7 linked regions of the Homo sapiens genome follow. The protein of the gene in region 7 interacts with the protein of the main gene of each other region in a pairwise test. Each region holds a gene or a part of one and is shown on either strand. Other genes may lie near its edges. The genes, in order: EIF3B, ABI3, EXOSC10, ZMYND10, TRIML2, ZNF783 and EIF3M.

Region 1 (3,500 bases), on a different chromosome or scaffold from region 7:
GCTGCTGCATTTTCTGTGTTGGGCAGTCAGTTGAAGGATGGCCTCTTGACCCTCAGTTACTCGTGTTATAATGAAACATTCTCTGAGGTTCTTTCTTTCTTTCTTTTTTTTGAGTCGGAGTCTCGCTCTGTCGCCCAGGCTGGAGTGCAGTGTCGCAATCTCGGCTCACTGAAAGCTCCGCCTCCCAGGTTCACACTATTCTCCCGCCTCAGCCTCCCTAGTAGCTGGGACTACTGGCGCCCGCTACCACGCCCGGCTAATTTTTTGTATTTTTAGTAGAGACGGGGTTTCACCATGTTAGCCAGAATGGTCTCGATCTCCTGACCTTGTGATCCACCCGCCTCGGCCTCCCAAAGTGCTGGGATTACAGGCCTGAGCCACCGCGCCCGGCCTCTCTGAGCTTCTTTCTAATCTTGCCTGTAATACACAATATTAGACTACTTTTAAGTTTTTTTTGTTTGTTTGTTTGTTTGAGACAGTCTCACTCTTGCCCAGGCTGGAGTGCAGTGGTGTGATCTCAGCTCACTGCAACCTCCGCCTCCCGGGTTCAAGCAATTCTCCTGCCCCACCCTCCCAAGTAGCCGGGATTACAGGCGCACACTACCACGCCTGGCTTGCTTGCTTGCTTATTTATTTATTTATTTATTTATTGAGACAGAGTCTTGCTCTGTCACCCAGGCTGGAGTGCAGTGGCACGATCTTGGCTCACTGCAACCTCCGCCTCCCAGGCTCAAGCAATTCTCCTGCCTTAGCCTCCTGAGTAGCTGGGATTATAAGCATGTGCCACCATGCCCGGCTAATTTTTGTATATTTAGCAGAGACAGGGTTTCACCATGTTGGCCGGGCTGGTCTCGAACTCCTGACCTCAAGTGATCTGCCCACCTTGGCCTCCCAAAGTGCTGGGATTACAGGTGTGAACCATTGCGCCCAGCCAAGATTTTTTTTTAAACAGCTTTATTGAGATAATTGATATACAGTAAATCTGCATAGTTTTAAAGCGTACAATTTAATACATTTTGATGTGTACATATCACGAAACCATCGCCACAGTCAAAATAATGGACGTTTTGATTAACTTTTCTATAATTATGATAATGAAACTAGAGACTTCGGATCTTCTGGTTAGGATTTCCCTGTCACTTAGGAGCTCCCTGGCTGTGGATCTGTCCCCCGTGTGACTGCCTTAGGCTCGAGGCAGGAAGAGCAGCACAGATACTCCTGGCACCGAGGGCTTGTCCGTGGAGAGGGGTGGGGCGGACAGCGCATACCTGCCTAGCCTTACAGTGTGGGTATGTGCCAACGGCCCTCTCTCACTCAGGTATATTTTCCTGGAGTACGCGTCCCCTGCCCACGCTGTGGATGCTGTGAAGAACGCCGACGGCTACAAGCTTGACAAGCAGCACACATTCCGGGTCAACCTCTTTACGGATTTTGACAAGTGAGTTCAGACTTGGCCACAAGGAAGTGGACGTTGACGTGCAAGTGACTGGCTGTGTGCGGGTGGCTTGGTGCTTCTCGGTGCTGGTGTCTGTCAGATTGTTCACATCCTTTCTGGTCAGGCTGCCGCAGAGCCATTTCACAGCCCTGCCCCACACTTCTGGCCTACAGCACCCCTCCCTGTTATGCCAGTCACAGCCCTGGGGGCGGGCAGGCAGGAGCACAGCAGGGCCATGCTGGAGCCCCCACGAGTTGCTCTTTCTAGTCGTCAGGGCGTGGGGCTCAGCAGTCTCCTTTCTTCTCCAGGTATATGACGATCAGTGACGAGTGGGATATTCCAGAGAAACAGCCTTTCAAAGACCTGGTGAGTGGCCTGAAACCTACATCTCAGTGGTTTAAAGAAATGCTGCTGGGTGTGGTGGGTCACACCTGCAATCCCAGCACTTAGGGAGGCTGAGGTGGGAGGATCGCTTAAGCCCAGGAATTCAAGACCAGCCTGGGCAACAAAGTGAGACCCCCGCCTCTACAAAAAGTAAATAAATACATACATTAGCTGGGCCTGGCATGCACCTGTATTCCCAGCTACCTGGGAGGCTGAGGGGGGAGGATCACTTGAGCCTGGGAGGTTGAGCCTGGGAGGTTGAGGCTGCCGTGAGCTATGATTGTGCCACTGGACTCCAGCCTGGGCAACAGCGTGACTCTGTCTCAAAAAAAAAAGAAATGCTAGACGGTGTCTTGACTTGAGGTTAGGGTGTGACTTGGGAGTTAAGATGTGGACTGAACTTGTCATATCTTTAAGAGCAATAGTTGTGAATGAGTTTTTTATTAAAATTAATGAAATGTTATATTCCTTGTCTTTGTTTTTAAGGGGAACTTACGTTACTGGCTTGAAGAGGCAGAATGCAGAGATCAGTACAGTGTGATTTTTGAGAGTGGAGACCGCACTTCCATATTCTGGAATGACGTAAAAGACCCTGTCTCAATTGAAGAAAGAGCGGTGTGTATTTGCTGCTGCTGGGGGCGGGGACTCACCTCTCCTGTATTTCCTTAACAAAGTGGAACTTTGTTTCTATCAGAAAACTGGAAGAGCAGGTGACGTTATATTTTCTTTGAGATTACTTTCTGAAAACAACTTCTTTTATTCCTCTTCCAGCTTTGAAGTAAATCCTGAGAAGTGAACAGGCTTTGTGTATTTCACTTAAGAGTTTGCAGAATAGGCCGGGCGCGGTGGCTCACGCCTGTAATCCCAGCACTTTGGGAGGCCAAGGTGGGTGGATCACGAGGTCAGGAGATTGAGACCATCCTGGCTAACACGGTGAAACCCCGTCTCTACTAAAAATACAAAAAAATTAGCTGGGCATGGTGGCAGGCACCTGTAGTCCCCGCTACTCGGGAGGCTGAGGCAGGAGAATGGCATGAACCTGGGAGGTGGAGCTTGCAGTGAGCTGAGATTGCGCCACTGCACTCCAGCCTGGGAGACAGCGAGACTCCGTCTCAAAAAAAAAAAAAGTTTGTAGAACAGATTCATTGTAGGATAAATTCATTGTAGGAGGGGTCTTTGTGTTTGCCATTTTGTTGTATTAACGTTGGCACTGCCTTTTTCTGCAGAGATGGACAGAGACGTATGTGCGTTGGTCTCCTAAGGGCACCTACCTGGCTACCTTTCATCAAAGAGGCATTGCTCTATGGGGGGGAGAGAAATTCAAGCAAATTCAGAGATTCAGCCACCAAGGGGTTCAGCTTATTGACTTCTCACCTTGTGAAAGGTAAGCTGCTAGAAAAACACAGGGGAGTCTATGCATTTCACCCCATGCCAGCCTTCTACAGGTGATCTTTCATTTTGTAGCATTTCAAACTTAGTAGAAAAATACGGGAGTATGCAGAACGCTAATAAGCTTTTTACTGAGATCTTCTCACATTTGGTTGCATTTACGTCATCATCTCCTATACAGATATTTTTTCCTGAGCCATTTGGGAGTGAGTTGAAATAACATGTCCCTTTAGCCCTGAATGTGTATTCCTAGAAATAGGATTTTGTTAGTGTGACCATAGTGTGGGTACTG
Region 2 (4,091 bases), on a different chromosome or scaffold from region 7:
AGCTGTGCCACTTAGTACTTGGGGCGTGGCCACCTCTAATGCCTCTGTTCAAGCTTCTTTGCTGCCATGCCTCCCTCTGAGCCCTGAATGTGGGTTCCTGAGCACAGAACCCACATCCTGGTTTTTTTCTTGCTGTCCCCCCAGGACCACCCAAGGGCTATGCCATTTAACAGACATTGAGCTCCTGCTCTGGTTGACACCCATCCAATGACAAGGGACCCGCTGGAGGAGCAAAAGTTAAGGGACCAATATGGTCAATGGGAGGTCCTCTTATTCTCCTGTCTCTAGGATGACAGGCTTGGTGGTGGGAGGGGCAGAGAGGAGGCCCGCCGTCCATCCTAACTTCCGTGCTCCAGGACCCAGTCCAACTCTCAGCTGGGAGCTCTAAGAATTTGAAATCAGAACAGGATCCTGGAGGTTGTCTGGTACAACTGTCCTGTTAATGCGTGAACCACAGCCCATACCTCCTAGGCAGGCTCAGTGCTCTGTCCACCGCTGCTTCCTAAAACCGCAAGTTGATCTGAAATTTGAACCTGGTGCTTCTCAAATCCAAGTCCTTCCTGTTGTCTAATCTGAGTCCCTCACATTACGCTTGGTCAATTTCATCTTGTCCTGCCTTCATCTGCACAGAGCGTGTAGGGCAGATCTTCATCACACACAACCCTTCGCAGGCTTGCTAACACCCCTCTGGCAACCTCTCTGGTCATGTCTTCCCGGTGTCCAACCCTGACCCCTCTTGCTGCCGCATCGGCTGTTTTCTATTTTTGCTGTGCTGCTGCCCCACAGTCCTCTGGTATGACGGATCTCCATATCCTATCCACCCTCCACTCCCCTGTCCCTTGGTGACTCATCCCTGAGCTTCCCAAGGAAGCCCCCACCCTCTGCCCTTTCCTCCCGCCTTCCATGAGTGGAAAATCCACCTCCGCCCCCTATAGCAGGCCAGCCCCCTTCCTCCCCAGTCTCCGACCCCATCCCCCAGCCGACCAGTTTCCTCTCCAGGACCAGGGAGCAATCACAGCTGCCCCGACCTTGGCTTCCTCTGCTGGGTGGGATTGGGGGCTGGGCCCCCAAATGGGCCCCTGGCTTCCCCCTTCCTCTGGGCAGGGGACAGAGAGACACAGGCTCGGGGAGCAGGACTGACTTCCTCTTGTCCCGGAATGAGCATGCCTGCCCTTTGCAAGCAGGTTTGGGTCTCACGCAGAGGAAACCAAAAGCAATAAGAGGGAGGGAAGGCAGAGCAACCAATCAAGGGCAGGGTGAGACTCAAAACGAGCGGGCTCCCTGGGGAGCCAGACAGAGGCTGGGGGTGATGGCGGAGCTACAGCAGCTGCAGGAGTTTGAGATCCCCACTGGCCGGGAGGCTCTGAGGGGCAACCACAGTGCCCTGCTGCGGGTCGCTGACTACTGCGAGGACAACTATGTGCAGGTAGGTAGAGCGGGCGGAAGCCTGACACCCCAGCCCCCGGAGGGGGGACCCTGAGCCCTGCCCCAAGTGGGGCCCTGGGACCCATCCTGACAGTGCTTGTCCTGGGCCTTGGCTGAGAAATCCTCCCATTCCAGGCTTCGGCTTCATCCCAGACCCCAATACTTAACCCTGACCCCATACTACCCAAGCCCCCACTGTGCCCCTTCTGTCTCTCAGAGCCTCAGAGATGCCTGGGACAGACAGTGCGATTCCATCCTGTTCTCAGGTGTCACCTCAGGTTCATCCTTCTGAGTTCCCACGGGTCAATCCAGAGACCCAAAGCCTCCGTCCTCACACAGATGCTGGCGATCATTCTATTTCCAGGCCGGCTCTGGGTGAGGCTTCAGAAGAACTTCCCAAACAGCACAGTGAACCTGAGATGGACAAGGGAAAGGGGCTCTTTCCCTGAGTTTGGGAAAGGGAGAGTGGGGATAAGGCAGAGTAGGCTGGGCTAAAGAGAGGGGATCTCATGCAGAGGCAGGGGGATGGCCCACATAACTGCTGGGAGCAGGCTTCTAGCAACAGATAGGGAGGTGGCATTGTAGAACAGGTTTTAAATTGTGTGGTTGTCCTGGGGCTGAGAACATAGATTCCTGGATTCAGGGAGGAGAGGCAAGGCAACTGAGCCATGATGGAAATCACTTCTGTTATTTCATTAATCTGTACAACTACCTTGTGAGACATGTATTATAATTCCTATTTTACAGATGTGGAAACAGTAGCTCAGGGAGGTGAGGTGACTTGTCTAAGGCCACACAGCTCCAAACAGCAGAGCCAGGCATTCCTTTTTTTTCGCTCTTGTTGTCCAGGCTGGAGTGCAATGGCTCGATCTTGGCTCACTACAACCTCCGCCTTCCGGGTTCAAGAAATTCTCCTGCCTCAGCCTCCTGAGTAGCTGGAATTACAGGCATGCACCACCATGCCCGACTAATTTTATATTTTTAGTAGAGACAGGGTTTCGCCATGTTGGTAAGGCTGGTCTCGAACTCCTGACACCTCAGGTGATCCACCCGCCTTGGCCTCCCAAAGTTCTGGGATTACAGGAGTGAGCCACTGTGCCCAGCCAGCCTTTTTTTTTTTTTGACGGGGTCTCCTCTGTCACCCAGGCTGGAGTGCTGTGGCATGATCATAGCTCACGTAGCTTCACTGAAGCCTTGAACTCCTAGGTTCAAGCAATCCTCCCACCTCAGCCTTCTGAGTAGCTGGGGCTACAGGTGCATGCCACCATGCCTGGCTAATTTTTTAAATTTTTTTGTAAAGACAGGGTCTCCATATGTAGCCCAGGCTGGTCTTGAACTCCTGGCCTCAAGTGATCTGCCCACCTTGGCCTCCCAAAGTGCTGGGATTACAGGCATAAGCCACCACATTTGGGCTTCCCTGAATCCTGATGCCAAGCTCTTTCCTCTCCATCTTTCTGCCTCCCTACACGCTATGTGACTTTACGACAGTTTATTAGCACTCTCTGTCCCCGGTTTCCTCTGCTCCCTGAAGAGCTGCAGACTAACCTTGTTACCCCTTGGGCAAAACTTTATTTTTCTAACCTGTACTAACCAAACTATGAGAACAGGCACAGGGACCTTGTAGCATAGTAAGAATGTTGAAAAAAGAAGTAAATGAGTAACAAGTGCTCATGGGAAATGGCAGATTAAAGACAGTCAGTAATGACAGCAGTTAAAATGCTCTGGACCCTTCTTTTGGGCCAGGCATGTTACCAGCATGGCCTCCCTTCATCCTCATCTGAAGTCCGGTGAGGCGAGTCCCATGCCCACTTCACAGTGAGGAAGCTGAGGTTTGGAAAGGTTAAGTCACTTTCCCAGAAGTCTCCTAGCTAGTGTCAGAGCCTGAATTCAAACGCAGAAATCTGATTCCAGAGCCCACTCCCTATGCCACTAACTGAAAATGCTACTCTGGGTATCATTTCGGTCTGTGTAGATGTTGAGTGACCACCTGCAGATGAGACAGAATGAGGCTTGCAAACCAGCTCATTCTCCTAGCATGGAAAGGCATGTTTCCTCTATGGACAAGGATCCAAGCAGTCCTTTCCATTCCTTCCATAACTTCTGCACACCTCAAAGAGCTTCCACAGGGCTCTCATTTGCACACACAGTGTGCACACACAATTTGGGGTCGCAAAGACCTAAGTCAAATTTCCAGTTCTGCCACCTACCAACTACAGGAACTGTGGCAAGTTTCTCCTCTGATTCTCATGCCTGCCTTCAGTGGTGGCTCCATGGATTCAATATAAAAATGTATCAAAGCATTCAGCCTAGTGCCAGCCCCTTCAGAAGAGCAGGATAAATGGCAGCTCTTACAATGACCATCACTACCATTCATTGGAAGGATGGATAATAAGAATCAGTTCTAGGGAGGAGAAGCTGTCCTTGCAAAAATATGCAGGGCATGAGAAGCCCTGACCCAAGTTGGAATCCTTGGACTCCTGCTTCCTTCGTGCAGAGTACTAACTACTAGAACACACAACTTGTTACCTTTCCTGGCCTTTCTGAGGATCTTTATCTAGGCAAATGCCTAGGAAGGTTCTGGATCTCAGAACTTCTGTTACCTAAGGCCTGATTCCCCTACCCTCCAACCCCACCTGCAGCCCCTCTCTCCCCACACCACCCAGATG
Region 3 (3,500 bases), on a different chromosome or scaffold from region 7:
CGTCTGCTTTAAAGTGCAAAATAGATGAGGACTCCCTGCAGTTTCATTCTAAATAGTGTACTTCTATATTTAATGTATGCAGTCCAGGGACTTCTTAGTTATTTTAGTGGCCACATTACACTGTTAAATCATATTAGAATTTTCAGCCCAATTCAGAGCTTTAAAGAGTCAATCGAGTATTGGGCATGGGTAATTACTGTCCTACCTGCCTTTGAGCAAATAATGCATTAATTACTTGGCATGACATACTAATGACCTTTATTGATCAACTTTGTAAAATTTTTATTTTTTTATTGACAAAAATTGTATAGGCGATCATTTACATGGTTATGTCTCAATAAACCTATATTATAAGTCAAAAATGCATTTAATACACCTCACTTACCAAATAGCTTAACTGAACCTGCTTTAAATGTGCTCAGAAAACTTCCATTAGTCTACAGTTGGGCAAAATCTTACACAAAGCCTATTTTTATAATACAGTGTTGAATATTCATCTCATGTAATTCAAGTAGCATTGAATACACTTCTGAAAGTGAAAAACAGGTTGTGGCCGGGCACAGTAGCTCATGCCTGTAATCCTAGCATTTTGGGAGGCCAAGGCAGGTGGATCACTTGAGGTCAAGAGTTCAAGACCAGCTTGGTCAACATAGTGAAACCCCATCTCTACTAAAAAATACAAAAATTAGCTGGGCGTGGTGGCGTGCACCTGTAGTCCCAGATACTCGGGAGGCTGAGGCATGAGAATTGCTTGAACCCAGGAGGCGAAGACTGCAGCAAGCTGAGATTGGACCACTGCACTCCAGCCTGGGCAACAGAGTGAGACTCCCTCTCAAAAAAAAAAAAAAGAAAAACAGGGCCAGGCACAGTGGCTTACGCCTGTAATCCTAGCACTTTGGGAGGTCGAGGCAGGCAGCTCACAAGGTCAAGAGATCGAGACCATCCTGGCCAACCTGGTGAAACCCTGTCTCTACTAAAAATACAAAAATTAGCTGGGCGTGGTGGTGCATGCCTGTAGTCCCAATTACTTGGGAGGCTGAGGCAGGAGAATCGCTTGAACCCGGGAGGCAGGTTGCAATTAGCTGAGATCACGCCATTACACTTCAGCCTGGCAACAGAGCAAGACTCTGTCTCAAAAAAGAAAAAAGAAAAACAGGTGGTAAGTGTACTTGAAATATGGATTCTACTAAATGCAAATCACTTTCACATCATTGTAAACTCAAAAACTTACAAGTCAAACTGTCATACATTGGGGACCATCTATATATTTATTACATACAACTTGATGTTTTGATACATACATTGATCTGTTCTTATATATGTATATTTTCTTACACAAATGTCTCTGAATACCAATCTCTTTAAAATGTTAGGTAATTAGGTGGGGCACGGTGGCTCACGCCTATAATCCCAGCATTTTGGGAGGCTCAGGTGGGCGGATCACTTGAGGTCAGGAGTTCGAGACCAGCCTGGCCAACCGGGTGAAACCCCATCTCTACTAAAAATAAAAAATTAGCCAGGTATGGTGGTGCACACCTGTAATCCCAGCTACTCGGGAGGCTGAGGCAGGAGAATCGCTTGAACCCTGGAGGCAGAGGTTGCAGTGAGCCCAATTCAGAACTGTAAAGAGTTGCAGTGAGGCAAGATTGCGCCACTGCACTCCAGCCTGGGTGACAGAGTGATACTCCATGTTAAATAAATAAAATGTTAGGTAGTTAACTCTGCTAACCTCAAAAGGAAAAATGCTTAACCAGTACCTCTTCTACTCTTAGGGTATTTTACTGGATGAAGCCTCAGGTGTAAACAAGAATCAACAGCCTGTCCTCCCTGCCGGCTTGCAGGTCCCCAAAACGGTAGTGTCCAGCTGGAACCGTAAGGTGAGGGCTTTTCAGATTAACTAGAGCTCTTGATGTCAGCTTCATAACAGAGATTTTGCTCATTCTAACATGCATTTCTGTTCTAATTTATTAGAGAACTGGCCACTGTCTCCTTTAGTTTGTTCTCATAAACATACACAAACTAATTACACCCTCTTCTTCTCTTTCTGGAGACCTCTACATGCACATACATTCTTAAATGAATGAATGACCTTTGCGATGTTCTTGTCTCCTCAGAAGTCATAAATTGGAATTTACTTTTCTAATTCATCAAGTTGCTGTGTTATAAAGTATTTGTATTCATTGATCATAGGCAGCAGAATATGGCAAAAAAGCAAAATCTGAAACTTTCCGGCTGCTTCATGCAAAAAATATCATCCGACCTCAGCTCAAGTTTCGAGAGAAGATTGACAATTCCAACACACCATTTCTTCCTAAAATCTTCATCAAACCCAATGCTCAGAAACCTCTCCCTCAAGGTAAATAGTGCATACTTTGCCTGTGTTTGAGTCTCACTTTATTTGATGCAAAAACCAGGAAGGGTGTACAGGTCTCTCTTCTTTGTTCAAAGGGAGCCCACCCTCCTTTGTTCAAAGGGAGCCCAGTTCAGCTATTCCAGAGGCTGAAGTGGGAGGATCACTTGAGCCCAGGAGGTCAAGGCTACAGTGAGCTGTGCTTGTGCCACCACACTTCAGCCTGGGGGACAGAACATGACCCTGTCTCAAAAAAAAAAGCCAAAAAACAAAGGGAACCAGTTTACCCCTGTGTAATTAGAAAAGACATGAATGTGCTAATGATGTTTTTGTCACTGCTGGGATCCCCAGCTCTCTCTAAGGAAAGGCGGGAACGCCCACAGGATCGTCCTGAGGACTTGGACGTCCCCCCTGCACTGGCTGATTTCATCCATCAGCAGAGAACCCAGCAGGTTGAGCAAGACATGTAAGTGTTGGCCTGTGTCTGACTTTCTGCCGTGAGTACTTACCTTTTTGCCACATTTTCACTTTTGTGGAGTATATACATGAAAACAATCTGAGGAGTAGTGATTTCCTCCTTACACCCCAACCTGGGCCTTAGCAATAAAACCTGCTGTTTGTGTTCACAAAGGGCCTACACAGCATTGCCTCATGTAAACCTCACTGCAGTCCTGAGAAGTAGCAGTTGCTCTTATTCCCATTTTATAGATGTAAAACACGAAGGCTGGGCGCGGTGGCTTACGCCTGTAATCCCAGCACTTTGGGAGGCTGAGACCGGTGGATCACCTGAGGTCAGGAGTTCGAGACCAGCCTGGCCAACATGGTGAAACCCCATCTCTACTGAAAATACAAAAATTAGCCAGGCGAGGTGGTGTGTGCCTGTAATCCCAGCTACTCGGGAGGCTGAGGCAGGAGAATCGCTTGAACTTGGGAGGTGGAGGTTGCAGTGAGCCAAGATGGCGTCACTGCACTCCAGCCTGAGTGATAGAGTAAGACTCCATCTCAAAAAAAAAAAAAAAAAAAGATGTAAAAGCAAAATTAGAGATGCAGGCTTCTTGTAGAGTTGGAACTTCTTTGAGACAGGGTCTTGCTCTGTCGCCCAGACTGGAGTGTGGTGGCATGAACACAGCTCACTACAGCCTTTACCTCC
Region 4 (4,142 bases), on a different chromosome or scaffold from region 7:
TCCAGGGACTATGCTCCAGCAGTTCCACCAGGAGGCAGGGCAGGTTGTGTGTGCTAAGCATACGGCTCAAGGTGCTGAGAGAGAGGCTAGGGGCAGGGACGTTGTGAAGGAGGTGAGTAGAGGCAGGCTACAGGCCCGGTCTTCCAGCCCTCCACAGTAGGCCCAGGCCCAGTCGGACTGCTCACCTGTCCACACAGTCTGTGATGTAGCGTAGTACTGAGAGGGCCTTCAGTGCAATCTCAAATTCCATCAGCTCTGCCTGCTTCTGCAGCTCCTGGGAGGTCACACAGTGTTCACGCTGGGCCACCCTCACCTGCGCAGGCCTTGGGGAACCCAGACCTAGGCTTTCACAACCCTAGGTAACCTCAACCCACCTGCATGGGGTTGCTGTCCTGGGATCCCTCCCCCTCAGGGGGGCCACCACAGCCACTCTGGGCCACCAGCAGGGTCAGTTTGCGGTGGCAATAGTCTACCAAGTCCAAGACAGTGTCTTCTGCTGACTCACACACCTCCTGGGAAAAGGAGGAGGGAAACTTTCTGTGTCTGATGCCTTCCCCACACAGACACAATCTCCCTTCCTGCCAGGCCCTGACCCGGAACTGTGGCCCATGGGCAGAGATAGTCCCTCACCTTGTGGAAGAACACTGTCTCCAAGAGGTTGATGATGGAGGCCTCGTGGTGCACCTGTCAGATAAAGAGAAGGACAGGGCCTGAGGAAGGGATAGGGGCTACCAGCTCTCCTCCCCGGTCCAGAGCCCTCTGAAGGAGTGAGAAGAGGTATGAACCAGGGGCCCAGCTCACCACCATGTAGATGGGGAAGGTGTTCTGGGGCTTGAAGTCCTCCACCCTGCAGAACACAGGGAACACCTTCTGCTTCCACATCTCCACTGCGATCAGCTCCTCCACCAGTGTTGGGACCTTTGAAGGGTAGGGTAAAGGACAGGGATGAGATGGGCCTACCTTTGCCTGGCAACCCTCCCATCCCCGGCTCAGCTCAACCCTGATATCCCCAAACACTGCTGGGCCCCTAAACTATTCCAGACCCATGAGTATCCTTCCTGACTTCTCTCTTGCACCTTGGACCTTCATTACCAGCTGCTCCCAACACCTCTGTGGATGTCCCTCATGCTTATGTGACTGGCTCCTGCCCAGTTCCCAGACTGCCTTGCCCTGCCTGCACCTGCACCCTTATCCTCTGCCCGCCCATTCAGGCATCCCTTTCAAGCCAGCCCTTCTCCTCATGCCCTCCCTCTAGTCCCTGTCTGTGGTCCTCCAAAGCTCTTGTGTGCCTTGGCCTCACTCCTACTCAGGACCCTTCACAGTGCCCTGTTCCTATCCTATCCCCTAGTATGAGTTCCATCTTTCTTTTGCAAAGGACCTTTCTTTTTTTTTTTTTTTTTTTTGAGACGGAGTTTCACTCTTGTCACCCAGGCTGGAGTGCAGTGGCATGATCTTGGCTCTCTGTAACCTCTGCCTCCCAGGTTCAAGCGATTCTCCTGCCTCAGCCTCCCGAGTAGCTGGGATTACAGGTGTGCACCACCATGCTCTGCAAATTTTTGTATTTTTAGTAGAGGTGGGGTTTCACCATGTTGGCCAGGCTGGCCTTGAACTCCTGACCTCAGATGATCCACCCGTCTTGGCCTCCCAAAATGCTGGGATAACAGGCATGAGCTACCATGCCCGGCTTTTTTTTTTTTTTTTTTGGTCAATTGATATCTCAGGTCATCTGCTGGTGACACTCCCTGGTCCATGTTCCAGCCAGGCATCTCCCTGGTTTCTAACTTCCCCCTTTCATGTTGGGAAGGCTGCTTCCTTCCATGCCGAAGTTCCACCTCCAGTTAGGTTATCTCCCCTCCCTCCCGCCCTCCCCAACCCCTCCCCACCCCTTCCCCACCACCAGCCTTACAGTCAATTCACAGATGCCTTTAGCATTTGGGCCTTCCCCTTGAAGCCTAAGCTGTTCTAGGACCTACAGCTTTCTCCCTAATCAACTCATGCCCTGCACCCAGCCTGGTGTGCCAGAGTCCTGTCCAATAGGGATACAAAATGAAACATGTAACACATTCCTCTTTGTCCTTCAGGGAGAACAGGTGTACCAGGCCAGAGGGGAAGGGCACACAGGGGACTCCGGAGGGGTAGAGTAGGTGAGGTATGGGGGAAGGCAGGAACCCTGCCTGTGACCTCGGGGTACCTTCCCATGGGTGACCAGCAGCTCCTGAATGGGCTCGCCCTGGCTGACTGTGGCATCGAGGATGGCTTGCATGTTCAGCTTCTCCAGGTTCTCATGCTGCTGGTTCCACCTGCCTCAGAGGGTAAGTGCATGTGCGTCCACGTGTGTGCATTAGGAGTGGGGATGGGGGCTGGATCCTACTGAAGCCTAACCTGATCCTGAGGGGACACAGGGGGCTCAGGAGCAGTAATACTCCTGTCTCGGAACGCTCTGCTCCCCCATTTGGGAGCCCCTCCACACTGGGCAGCCCCTCCCCCGAGTCAGGCCCCAGCTCCCCGACTCAAGGACAATGACTCCGGGACTCCGCCTGACCCGGGTGCCTCACCCTTCGGAGCCCATCTCGCGTAGCGGGAAGCTGCGCAGACCCCGCACCAGCACTTCAGCTTCCCCGGGCAGCAGCAGTTCCAGGTCTCCCATATCGAGGCCGGGGTCCGGCGGATCCTGGGCAGCAGCCGGGGTGGGGATGCTGTCACATTCGGGGACGACGGACCCCGACGGTGCCAAAGTCTGGGACAGGACAGTTGCGGGACGGTTGGGGAGCGTCAGTTCTCGCAGCCATGGAAACGGGTTAGCCGCGCCTGCGCAGTGCGGCCTGGGCCCCGCCCCTGGAGGTGGCTCGCGCCTAAATCCGGGCGGGTCTCTAGCCCGCCTCGCCTACGCGACTGCCAATCGCCATAGTATTTGGATTCCCAGCGCTTTCTCGGGCTGTGGCCCACGAGTCTCTCCTGAGCTCCAGATCCTTGTGGTCTGGACTCTGTCCTCAGACGCCAAGTCCGCCTGCACAGGGATGGGGGTAACCCCGACCCCAACAGCCCCTCCTGCGGCTGTGGCATCTTGACCTACCCGCTGCTCTTCCTCCTCCTTATGGCTTCTTGGTTCCTCTATTTCTCGCGTCCCGGCTCCACTAGTTGGCTCCTGAAATACTGCCAGGGCGCACGACTTCTCTCCATCCTCCCTATGTCCAGACTGTCATCACCTGTCATGGGTGAACTGCGGCAGCCTTTTCTGTAGACCTACTTCCACGCTTGATCCTCATGGACAGCCCGGAGCCTTAAAAGTGTATATCAGGCCGGGCGCGGTGGCTGACACCTGTAATCTCAGCACTTTGGGAGGCCGAGGCAGGCGGATCACTTGAGGTCAGGAGTTTGAGACCAGCCTGGGCAACATGGTGAAACCCTGTCTCTACTAAAAGTACAAAAATTAGACAGGTGTGGTAGCACACACCTGTAGTCCCAGCTACATGGGAGACTGAGGCAGGAGAATCGCTTGAGCACAGGAGGTGGAGTTTGCAGTGAGGCAAGATTGCACCACCGCACTCCAGCCTGGACAACAAAGGGAGACCGTCTCAAAAAAAAAAAAAAAGCATATAGACATTACTCCCTTGCGTGAGAGGGGCTCTGTGGCTACTTCTGGCCCTCAAAATGTTAGGTGGGATGCCGCTTACTAGCAGCTCTGCAAGATCTACTTCTTGTCCTCTCCTGTACCTCGGGACTTGGATTCTTTCCTCTCCTCCTTGCTTCCCTGAACCTCCCTCATACATTCCAAAGAGGTTTTTGCCTCAGAGTTTTGCACTTTGCCTGGAATACTTTTCCTTCAGGGCTCAGTTTACACCTCAGCATGGCCTTTCTTGGCCATTTAATCCAGAGCAGTCCCTGCCTCCAACCCAACTCACTCTTGATCACATCTTTTTTTGAAATTGAGTCTCCTGTCACCTAGGCTGGAGTGCAGTGGCATGATCTTGGCTCACTGCAACCTCTGCCTCCCAGGTTCAAGTGATTCTCCTGCCTCAGCTTCCTGAGTAGCTGGGATTACAGGTGTGCACCACCACACCTGGCTAATTTTTTGTATTTTTTTTTAGTGGAGATGGGGTTTCACTATGTTGGCCAGGCTGTTTTTGAACATCTGACCTCAG
Region 5 (3,500 bases), on a different chromosome or scaffold from region 7:
GAGGCGGAGCTTGCAGTGAGCCGAGATGGCGCCACTGCACTCCAGCCTGGGCGACAGAGCGAGACTCCGTCTCAAAAAAAAAAAAAAAAAAAAAAAAACCAAGAGAGTAAAAGCAGAGGTGGAGAGACGTGCAAAGGGACTTGCAATAATTAGGGAGAGATGATGGTGAGCTGGGGGACAGGTAGAGCAGTGGTGAGAAGTAGTCAGGTTCTTGATAAATCTTGATTTCATTGAATCTTTTTTTTTTTTTTTTTGAGATGAAGTTTCGTTCTTGTTACCCAGGCTAGAGTTCAGTGACGCGATCTCGGCTCACTGCAACCTCCGCCTCCCGGGTTCAAGCAATTCTCCTGCCTTAGTCTCCCAGGTAGCTGACATTACAGGGGCCCGTCATCATGCCTGGCTAATTTTTTTATTTTTAGTAGAGACGGGGTTTCACCATGTTGGTCAGGCTGGTCTCGAACTGCTGACCCCATGATCCACCTGCCTTGGCCTCCCAAAGTGCTGGGATTACAGACGTGAGCCCGGACAATTTCACTGAATCTTAAATAGCTTAATAGAGATGCTATTTAAGCATCTCTAAGATGACTACTTTCAAATATATATCCCTAGCTCAGATTTCCAAATGGTAGTAGGCTTCATGTCCAATTTCCTACTTACTATCTTTACTTGGATGTCTAATTGACTAATCAAATTCATCACATCCCGAGCTAACGCACACTCCTCACTTCTGGAATCCAGCCTTTCCATAGATTCTCTCTATATATTTTGGTAATTCCATTCTTCCAGTTGCTTAGTCTAAAATTTTTGGTGTCTTTCGTCCATGACTCCTTTTTTCCCCACAACTCTTACCCAAGCATCAGCAAATCCCATTGGCCCTTTTCCAATGTCCTGGTCTCCTCCTCTGTTTGACAGAGGCTATAGCTTCCTTAGTTTTTCCTTATTGATGAACATTTCTTTTTTTTTTTTTTTTTTTTAAGATGGAGTCTCCCTCTGTCGCCCAGGCTGGAGTGCGGTGGCGCCATCTCGGCTCACTGCAAGCTCCACCTCCCGGGTTCACGCCATTCTCCTGCCTCAGCCTCCCGAGTAGCTGGGACTACAGGCGCCCGCCACCAAGCCCGGCTAATTTTTTGTATTTTTAGTAGAGACGGGGTTTCACCGTGTTAGCCAGGATGGTCTCGATCTCCTGACCTCGTGATCCGCCTGCCTCGGCCTCCCAAAGTGCTGGGATTACAGGCGTGAACCACCGCGCCCAGCCAATTCATTGATGAACATTTCTTCGTCTGCATTTTATGTTCTAAAATTGTGTTGATGTCTTGGCTGATGTTGACTCAAATTCTATTTCTCCTTTGGGTTTATTCCTTTTCTTCTGTACTTTACATTTCCTCGTCTTTTTTTGTTTGTTTGTTTTTTTGAGACAGAGTCTAGCTCTGTTGCCAGGCTGGAGTGCAGTGGCGTAATCTCTGCTCACTGCAACCTCCACCTCCCAGGTTCAAGCGATTCTCCTGCCTTAGCCTTCCGAGTAGCTGGGATTATGGGTGCTCCCCACCACGCCCAGCTAATTTTTGTATTTTTAGTAGAGATGGGGTTTCACCATGCTGGCCAGTATGGTCTCGATCTCCTGACCTCGTGATCCACCCACTTTGGCCTCCCAAAGTGCTGGGATTGCAGGCGTGAGCCACTGCGCCCAGCCTTCCTTGTCTTTATATTGGGGTTAGAGATGGAAAGAATACATTGTGGTCAGTGTAAGATATATATATCTATATATAGATATAGATATCTATCTATTATGACGTGTGTGTGTGTTGTTAATCTATCATGTTTAACCTGAAGTCTATCATGTCTATATGAGGAAGGAAGAGGAACAAAATTTTAAAAAGATGATTGAGTCTGAGTATAGTATGAGACTCCGGTTGTTGAATGAAGAGTGTGAGCAGAATCTCCAGAGACAGCAGGAATGCATATCTGACTTGAACCTGAGAGAAACCCTTCTGAATCAAGCGATCAAGCTTGCCACCGAGCTAGAGGAGATGTTCCAGGAAATGCTACAGGTGAGATATTGAAAACAACATCCTCATATTTGAGAAATGAGAAAAAGAAGAGCTAAACATTATGTCAATTCCAAAATAACATAGCCAGTGACAACCACACATGTATTAAATGAATTATATACCTACCTGGCAACTCCATTTCTATGAATTTATCTTGACATGCATATAAAAAGACATAAATAAAGCACAATATACCTATAAATATATTTGTACACATATTACTGTATTATGCTTCAAACATACTTACACACATAGAAAAAGACACCTGGGTAAGGCAACACTGAAACTGAGTTTCAGTTTAGAGCCATGGTTTAGAATTCACCTTTCTTTTTTTTGAGACAGAGTCTGGCTCTGTCTCCAGGCTGGAGTGCAGTGGCGCAATCTCAGCTCACTGCAAGCTTCGCCTCCCGGGTTCACGCCATTCTCCTGCCTCAGCCTCCCAAGTAGCTGGGATTACAGGTGCCCGCCACTACGCCCGGCTAATTTTTTGTATATTTAGTAGAGACGGGGTTTCACCGTGTTAGCCAGGATGGTCTCGATCTCCTGACCTCATGATCCACCCGCCTCAGCCTCCCAAAGTGCTGGGATTACAGGCGTGAGCCACCGCGCCCGGCCTAGAATTCACCTTTGAAGCCGGATGAATGGAGTTCCTATCTGAGCCAGCTGTTTACTGGCTCCTGGGTGGCCTACGACCTGCTGCTTAACCTTTGACTTGGTTCCTTTAGCTGTAAACTGGATATAACAGTGACCCCTAATTTATAAAATTATTGTGAGATTTGAGTGAGATAATCTGCTAAAGCTTATTAAATCGTGTCTTGTTCATGTTAAGCAGTTGATGAGTAGCAGATGTTACAATTATAACATTCATAGCAAGAGGTTAGAAACACCCTGTATTTGTCAATAGAAGACTCACAAAATGTGCTCCATACATACATGGAAGAATACTCTTCAGCATGTTAAGATGATGTCATGGCTCTGTGTATATGAATAAGGAATGTTCTCCAAGAATAAAGTAAGTTGTCAGATTAGTAATCAAATATAATAAACTATCACTTATGTTTATGTTTTTTCCCCCTAAATAACATACTCAAGTTGCGTATGTGACTACGCAGTATATGTAAAGTATACTTGGAAGGATAAAAAGAAAATTGATATCAGTAACGTAATTATTTATTTCTTATTAGTTAATCTATATACCTTAATTTTAATTGATTTCAAGTTAATGAAAAAATAGGGAACCTTCTGAACAAACAGCCACAGAAAAAACATGAAATGTTTTAGGTGCATATTAATGTGAGTAAGGGCTGCGTGCACACACATCTGTATTGGCTTAAACATACATAACAGGGGGCAAAGAATCAACTGTCTCTTGAGAGGAATCCTGCTTCAGCAGAAGAATATCATGGCCTTGCCTAATTATGTCTGTTCCTGGGGTAGCAGGCAGAAAAGCAG
Region 6 (3,147 bases), on a different chromosome or scaffold from region 7:
GACCTGGCAGGAGCCCACAGAGGACCCCTGGCGGGGTCTCTCCCCTGTGCCTGACGCAGGTTCTTCCTTTTCCTGGGATGGAGAGAGGTTTGTTGTTTTTACCCATTCAAATGGGAAGCTAGCTGCCCTTCTGGTGACATTGTGTGTGACCGGGTGCTTTCTGTTTCCTGTTTGCACTCTTCGCTGCCTTTTCTGCATTCCTGACTTCTAAAAGATGCCTTAAGGCTTAAGGGATGCCATATTTTTGATAAGGCCTCTGGTAGGTACCACAGCCAAGAGGACCAGAGATCATGGCCCTTCCAGTATGGGGGCGATAGAGACATCGGGGACCTGGGATTTTTGTTTTGTGCAGAGATCTCCTGCCTGCTGTCACCATGAGAAACAGTGGAGTGGAGTGGATGGATGGCCTGACTTGAAGAAAGGGCCCTGGAAAGTTTTCTACTTTGCTATTTTGAAATTTTTTTCCCTTCTTATAGAGACTTTGAAATACTTTTGTAAATGTGTGTAGTTGTTAATGGAACTTTGCCTTTTGCAAAGTCGGAAAGAGTCGGCTTTTCCATGTGAGGCTCGCAGAGCTGAAAGGGGAGCTACGTCCACCAGCCTGTGGGTCTTTTGGTTTTTTTTTTGTTGTTGTTGTTGTTTTTTTAAGATGGAGTTTCACTCTTGTTGCCCAGGCTGGAGTGCAATGGTACAATCTCCGCTCACTGCAACCTCCGCCTCTCGGGTTCAGGTGATTCTCCTGCCTCAGCCTCCTGAGTAGCTGGGATTACAGGCGCCCACCACCACTCCCGGCTAATTTTTGTATTTTTAGTAGAGACAGGGTTTCATCATGTTGTCCAGACTGGTCTCGAACTCCTGATGTTAGGTGACCCGCACACCTCGGCCTCCTGAAGTGCTGGGATTACAGGCGTGAGCCACCACTCTTGGCCCAGCCTGTGGGTTTTGATGGGGATGTCTTGGCTGCTGTCTTGGAGGCACAGTGTCTCCCCATGTGTGTGTTTCTTGGCCCAGAGTGACTCCCAGTATTCCTAGTCCTTCCCCACAGGATAGTCACATCCATTATTTACTTTTGTTGTCAGCTGGGAGGGGAAACTGAAGCCTGGACACGTCTCCCCAAGGGCTCAGTGTTCATGGGTGTGTAAGATCCATTGACTGGACCCCAGAAAGCACCCTGAGGGGCAGTGCAGAGAGAGCCCAGGAAGCCCCTCCACTAGAGGAGGCCCTTGGTCTGGCTGAGGACCACGTCCACCCTGGGCCTCCAGGCCTGCTTTTCACATTAAAGGCGGGGCAGTCTCCTCTCAAAGGAGTTCTCCCTTGAGCACTTTGGGCTCTGGGGCAGAGTTGGGCTAGGAGATCTGGGTGAATCCTTTAGTCACAGCTAGTCTCATGTTCCTCTTCTGTCAAAGGGGTCATGGCCCCAGTGTGTCCTACCTCAGAGTTGTCAGGGTCAAAGTAACAGGCACTGGGACAAATATGAAGCCTAGCTTTGTGCTTCCTTTCAAATTCAGGGCCTCCTTTCTACTCCATTCCAGCCTTTTTTTCCTGTCAGAATCCCTCAGGAAGGACCTTTATCTTCTGGAGTGAGTGGCAGTTCCACTGGGTTCAGTGAAAGAGTCGCCCATGGGGCTCTGTTCCCCAGGAGTCCTTTGTATTTTGGTGAACAAATTCTTACCAAAGCATGAGATTCGGACTGTAGAAGTTCAGACTGCCTCAGTTCAGACTGCCTCATGGGGCAGTCTGGAGGTCAGCTGGCTTCTGGTGTCTCTCATCACACCACTGCGGACGCTGTCTGTAGAGCAGCCTTGGTGTGGGTGACTCTGAAGCTGGAGTGATGGGACCCCAGCTATCCTTGTTTTTTACCGCCTTGTCTGGCACTGTGACCACGCTTCAGGGCTGCTTCTGGGGGTCTTGGTCCCTGGATGTGCCATTTCCTTGCCCTTCTGACCCTCACACTTCTTCCAAAGTCTTGAGCAGAGTTGGGGGCCAATGGTAGCATTGCTGTCATCTCTGGGAGGAGAGTGAGTATACAAGTCAGTGACAGTTCAGCCAGGCTCCCTTGGGTTTGGGAAGAGGCACTGCCCTTCTGTGCTGTGGATCCTGCTTGTCTGCTCTGGAGTCCCCCCACCCTTGCCAGGAGCTTCACAAACCAGAGACGGGCTGTCAGCAAGAGCTCAGACAGGATGTGGTGCAAGTGCAGGTGCACGAGTTTAACCCTCAGCTGCAGGAGCTAGTCTCAGGTGTTCTGGGGATGCCTCAGGCTAAGAATTTTGCCGACTTTCTGGGCTTGGTTGGCTAATGCCAAATGCCCCTGCTTAAATATCACAAGGTGCTGATTCTCCTTTTTTCTTTTTTTCATACCAATGTGCTCAAACTTTGAGCTAGGTCTTGTGAGTTTGCCTAGCACTCAGACCTGTTTAAGTAACGTTCTTTACATTGAAACAAGTCAACCGAAGCTTTGTGGTGCAGGAGCTGAGGGTGCCCCAGACTCAGTGGGAGCCCTGGTTGGGCCCCAAACTCTCCCAGCAGGGTCCTCGGTTTCCTCATTTGTGAAATAAATGAGTGGGCCACGACGTTAATAAGCCCAAGAGAACTGTGAAGGTGGTAGTCCCTTGCCCTAATTGGTGCTCAATAAAGTTGTTGGCATAAACGAGTGCGTGCGCTTGATCTGGTTTCTGCTCTCTGGGAGGTGAGTGGCCGTGCGGGGCGGTGGCAGCTGGCGACACCTGCGGGCTGTTGGGCACCAGCCCGGGGCGGGCGCTCGCACCTGTCGGGCGTGCACAAAGGCCCGGCGCACGCTGTGGGGGCGGGGCCTCCCGGGTTGGCCAATGAAAAGCTGGCACTGGGTCGGAGGCGCCAGCCAAGTGGGGGGCGGAGCTTCCACCACCGGCCAATGGGGATCTGGCTTCGGGATGTGGGCGGGGTCCACCCGGTCGCAACCCGTTGAGTCTCTGCACAGCTGCCGCGCTGACGCGTTTTCCGCGTGTCCCGAGCCCCGGCGGCCCCGCGAGCTCGGTCCGTGCGGGGAAAGCAGGGCTGACGCCGTCTGCGGAGAGGACTGCGCAGCCGGGCTTGTGTGGGGCCGCGCGTAACGGCAGCGGCTACTCCCTGCCCAGGCCGGCCAGCACAGGGCCATGGCCGAGGCGGCTG
Region 7 (3,500 bases):
TGCTTTCAAGTTCCTAAAGCAATATTTCTTTTTAGTGATGCTGCTTCAAAAGTCATGGTGGAATTGCTCGGAAGTTACACAGAGGACAATGCTTCCCAGGCTCGAGTTGATGCCCACAGGTAATGTTAAACGTTACTCTGATGAGGGTTTGACAGCGATGTAGAGGTAAGCTACAATATTAAATTAAGTAACTGAAATCATGTTTGCAACTACCAGTGATCCAGAGCCATTTGATAGTGTGTATTTCCTGGTGATTCTAATGTAGATACTAAAATTCAAGGTTTGATATTGGAAGAACTGTGGATTGAATATGAAGTAGCTGCATGGCGTTTACCTGGCGGGGGGGGTATTGCTGGTATGGGGATGATGATCCCAACCCAAGAATTAGAACCTAATCTTGGGCCAATTGACCCTAATTTTAAGGTTATAGGTGGAAAGTTGATGGCTTGCCAAAAATTAACCCATTGCTAATGAGTATAAGGGCTTTTAACAGTCTTAGATCTAACTGGTAACAAGAATAGAATCAGTTTTCTAAATCTATGTAATAAGGATTATGAAACTTCTTTTTTTGGTCATTGCTTTGTGTGGACCTCTACATGATAGGAGTTGGTAAAAAGGGAAGTTGGTGGTAAAGATCCTTGACTTTGAGGTCAGGCTGCCTCCATTCACATTCTTACTCCACCTCTTAATGAGCACTTCTGAACTGCTTCATAGTTGATAAAGGGGGCAGAGTAATACTGTTTGTCTCCTAGGTTGTTGTGAGGAATAAATGAGATGTAAGGCAAGTGAAGCACTTAGTGTCTTGGCATGTGGTTCTGCTGCTGCTTACTATTTGATTACCTTGGTGCTTTCTCTCCAGCTATGTTTTTATCTACAATTAATATATTTCATTTTGTTAAAACAGATGAACCTGATAAATGTGTTGGCCTGTCTTAACCCAATCCTGTAGCTTTTTTAATGTTGTTTATATGTTTTGGACTGTTAGATATTTTGCCGAATTAAGTATATTTTATGATCTGCAAAAACTCAATGAAAAGCCAGGATTTCAAAACCCTGAGCTTACATTTTTGTTCTCTAATTAAGGTGTATTGTACGAGCATTGAAAGATCCAAATGCATTTCTTTTTGACCACCTTCTTACTTTAAAACCAGTCAAGTTTTTGGAAGGCGAGCTTATTCATGATGTAAGTAGTTTATCCTTTAATGTGAAAAATGTTCTCCTTTCCTAAATTTTACATACTGAAGCAGGACTCTTTTTCTTTGCATTAATAAAAGTGACTAATGGCAAGATATGGAAAGATTAAGAACTATGTATTCTTTTTATATCAGGAACAGACATATTTAGGACCAGCTTTTCTTCATCCACTGAGCAGAGTCCTATTCTTCCTCCCTTTCTTAATTTCTTTTTTTTTTTTGAGACTGAGTCTCACTCTGTCACCAGGCTGGAGTGCGGTGGCATGATCTTGGCTCACTGCAACCTCTGCCTCCCTGATTTAAGCAATTCTCCTGCCTCAGCTTCCAGGAGAAGTAGCTGGGATTACAGGCACATGCCATCAGGCCCAGCTAATTTTTGTATTTTTAGTAGATACAGAGTTTTGCCATGTTGGTCTGGTCTCCGACTCCTGACCCCCCTGACCCCAAATGATCTGCCCACTTCGGCCTCCCAGAGTGCTGGGATTACAGGCGTGAGCCACTGTGCCCGGCTACCTCCCTTTCTTTCATCTTCTCACTTACTCATCATTATAGACTTAGATAATACAAGTTTCTTTTTTATTACATATATATTGTTCCTAGCCCCACTTAGGAATATAAGTCTGATATTTAAAAACACATGAACATTTTTCAAATGCAAGTATAAATATATTTTGGACTGTTGTGCATCTGGACTATGCCATTAGCCATCATCTTTCAGTGTGGATAATTTAGAGCTCAGTGTATTTACTGATTATTTCATTTTAAAAGTGAGCCATGTGAAAGCAGATGGTTTGGTAATTTGATGAAACAGAATGATATTTCTGCCTTGAACAAAATGTAGGAGTCAGTATCTTTAAAATAATATTTACAATATCTTAGAATATCTTACAATAAATCTGAATTCTGTATTGATGGTATCTTTTTTGTCTCTTATCTGTATAGCTTTTAACCATTTTTGTGAGTGCTAAATTGGCATCATATGTCAAGTTTTATCAGAATAATAAAGACTTCATTGATTCACTTGGTAAGTTTTGGGGTTTATTCTTTGAGGCACAGAGGTGGGAACATGATACACTAACAGTTATGTACTATGTGTTCCAGCAAGTATGGCTGTGGCCTTATTTGTAGATTATCCTAAAAGGAGTCGTGTATGATAGAACAGCACAAAAATAGGTAGACAGTTTAAAATATTACTTAGAATGAATTGAGAATCAGAAACCAAGAAGGTGTAGGAGGTGGCATTTGTGATAGAAAGAGAATGAAACTGGGAGTATGAAAACAACTCGGGGCCCAGCGCGGTGGCTTAGAGGTATAATCCCAGCACTTTGGAGGCCGAGGCGGGCGGATCACGAGGTCAGGAGGTCGAGACCATCTTGGCTGACTAACATGGTGAAACCCTGTCTCTACTAAAAATACAAAAAATTAGCCGGGCGCGGTGGCGGGTGCCCGTAGTCCCAGCTACTTGAGAGGCTGAGGCAGGAGAATAGCTTGAACCCGGGAGATGGAGGCGGAGGTTGCAGTGAGCCAAGACTGTGCCACTGCACTCCAGCCTCGGCAACAGAGCAAGAGTCTGTCTCAAAAAAAAAAAAAAAAAAAAGAAAGAAAAGAAAACAACTTAGCACTTGTAATCCCAGCACTTTGGGAGGATGAGGTGGGTGGATCACTTGAGGTCAGGAGTTCAAGACCAGCCTGGCCAACATGGCAAAACCCCATTTCTACTAAAAATACAAAAATTAGTGGGCATGGTGGCACATACCTGTAGTGCCAACTACTCAGGAGCCTTAGGCAAGAGAACCACTTGAACCCGGGAGGCAGAGGTTGCAGTGAGTTCAGATCACACTGCTGCACTCCAGCCTGGATGACAGAGTGAGGCTCCATCTCAAAAAACAAAAAAAAAAGAGAGAGAAAATGACTTGGAACCTTTTTGTCTCATTTAAGAGCTTGCTGAACTTTAGGCCCTTCCAGCTCTTCTGTACCATGATTCTTTGAGGTAAAGTTATATCAACAATCGGGTGTTTGGAGAAGATTGAAGAAATAGTTCCATTGGTACATTTGTTTTTAAAATTTAGAGATGGAGGAGTGAGCAGAAAAGCAACTGAAAGAATTACCATTACTTTGATCATAATGGTAACTTTCAGAAATGTTTTAAGAGCTGATAAAATTTGATGATTAAAGGTACTTTATTAAGCTAAACATTATTCTTAAAATAATATTGTTTCTTTGTAGAAGACTTTATTCCTTAGATATATGGTGATTTGTATTTTTGGTCCCTTTTTTTAAGCCATAGCCACAGAATGGTAACAAATA

What was found.
Region 1: the proteins of EIF3M (region 7) and EIF3B interact in binary tests that used the Homo sapiens proteins (3 or more experiments, as listed by UniProt).
Region 2: the proteins of EIF3M (region 7) and ABI3 interact in binary tests that used the Homo sapiens proteins (3 or more experiments, as listed by UniProt).
Region 3: the proteins of EIF3M (region 7) and EXOSC10 interact in a two-hybrid assay, tested with the Homo sapiens proteins (one large-scale study listed by BioGRID and IntAct).
Region 4: the proteins of EIF3M (region 7) and ZMYND10 interact in binary tests that used the Homo sapiens proteins (3 or more experiments, as listed by UniProt).
Region 5: the proteins of EIF3M (region 7) and TRIML2 interact in binary tests that used the Homo sapiens proteins (3 or more experiments, as listed by UniProt).
Region 6: the proteins of EIF3M (region 7) and ZNF783 interact in binary tests that used the Homo sapiens proteins (3 or more experiments, as listed by UniProt).

What each region holds. Positions count from the first base shown.
Region 1 is NC_000007.14:2,361,327-2,364,826, forward strand, and holds part of EIF3B (eukaryotic translation initiation factor 3 subunit B), read left to right. Parts: intron 1-1,318; coding exon 1,319-1,438; intron 1,439-1,743; coding exon 1,744-1,801; intron 1,802-2,305; coding exon 2,306-2,434; intron 2,435-3,045; coding exon 3,046-3,203; intron 3,204-3,500.
Region 2 is NC_000017.11:49,209,416-49,213,506, forward strand, and holds the start of ABI3 (ABI gene family member 3), read left to right. Parts: upstream 1-1,291; 5' UTR 1,292-1,309; coding exon 1,310-1,426; intron 1,427-4,091. UniProt on the Homo sapiens protein: May inhibit tumor metastasis. In vitro, reduces cell motility.
Region 3 is NC_000001.11:11,089,870-11,093,369, reverse strand, and holds part of EXOSC10 (exosome complex component 10), read left to right. Parts: intron 1-1,772; coding exon 1,773-1,877; intron 1,878-2,190; coding exon 2,191-2,356; intron 2,357-2,701; coding exon 2,702-2,816; intron 2,817-3,500. UniProt on the Homo sapiens protein: Catalytic component of the RNA exosome complex which has 3'->5' exoribonuclease activity and participates in a multitude of cellular RNA processing and degradation events.
Region 4 is NC_000003.12:50,342,933-50,347,074, forward strand, and holds the start of ZMYND10 (zinc finger MYND domain-containing protein 10), read right to left. Parts: upstream 2,801-4,142; 5' UTR 2,648-2,800; coding exon 2,556-2,647; intron 2,301-2,555; coding exon 2,192-2,300; intron 919-2,191; coding exon 802-918; intron 685-801; coding exon 631-684; intron 513-630; coding exon 375-512; intron 275-374; coding exon 186-274; intron 87-185; coding exon 1-86. UniProt on the Homo sapiens protein: Plays a role in axonemal structure organization and motility. Involved in axonemal pre-assembly of inner and outer dynein arms (IDA and ODA, respectively) for proper axoneme building for cilia motility.
Region 5 is NC_000004.12:188,099,604-188,103,103, reverse strand, and holds part of TRIML2 (probable E3 ubiquitin-protein ligase TRIML2), read left to right. Parts: intron 1-1,830; exon of another isoform or gene 1,831-1,844; coding exon of another isoform or gene 1,845-1,853; coding exon 1,854-2,048; intron 2,049-3,500.
Region 6 is NC_000007.14:149,282,342-149,285,488, forward strand, and holds the end of ZNF783 (zinc finger protein 783), read left to right. Parts: coding exon 1-2; 3' UTR 3-2,647; downstream 2,648-3,147. UniProt on the Homo sapiens protein: May be involved in transcriptional regulation.
Region 7 is NC_000011.10:32,593,831-32,597,330, forward strand, and holds part of EIF3M (eukaryotic translation initiation factor 3 subunit M), read left to right. Parts: intron 1-35; coding exon 36-119; intron 120-1,083; coding exon 1,084-1,183; intron 1,184-2,135; coding exon 2,136-2,217; intron 2,218-3,500. UniProt on the Homo sapiens protein: Component of the eukaryotic translation initiation factor 3 (eIF-3) complex, which is required for several steps in the initiation of protein synthesis.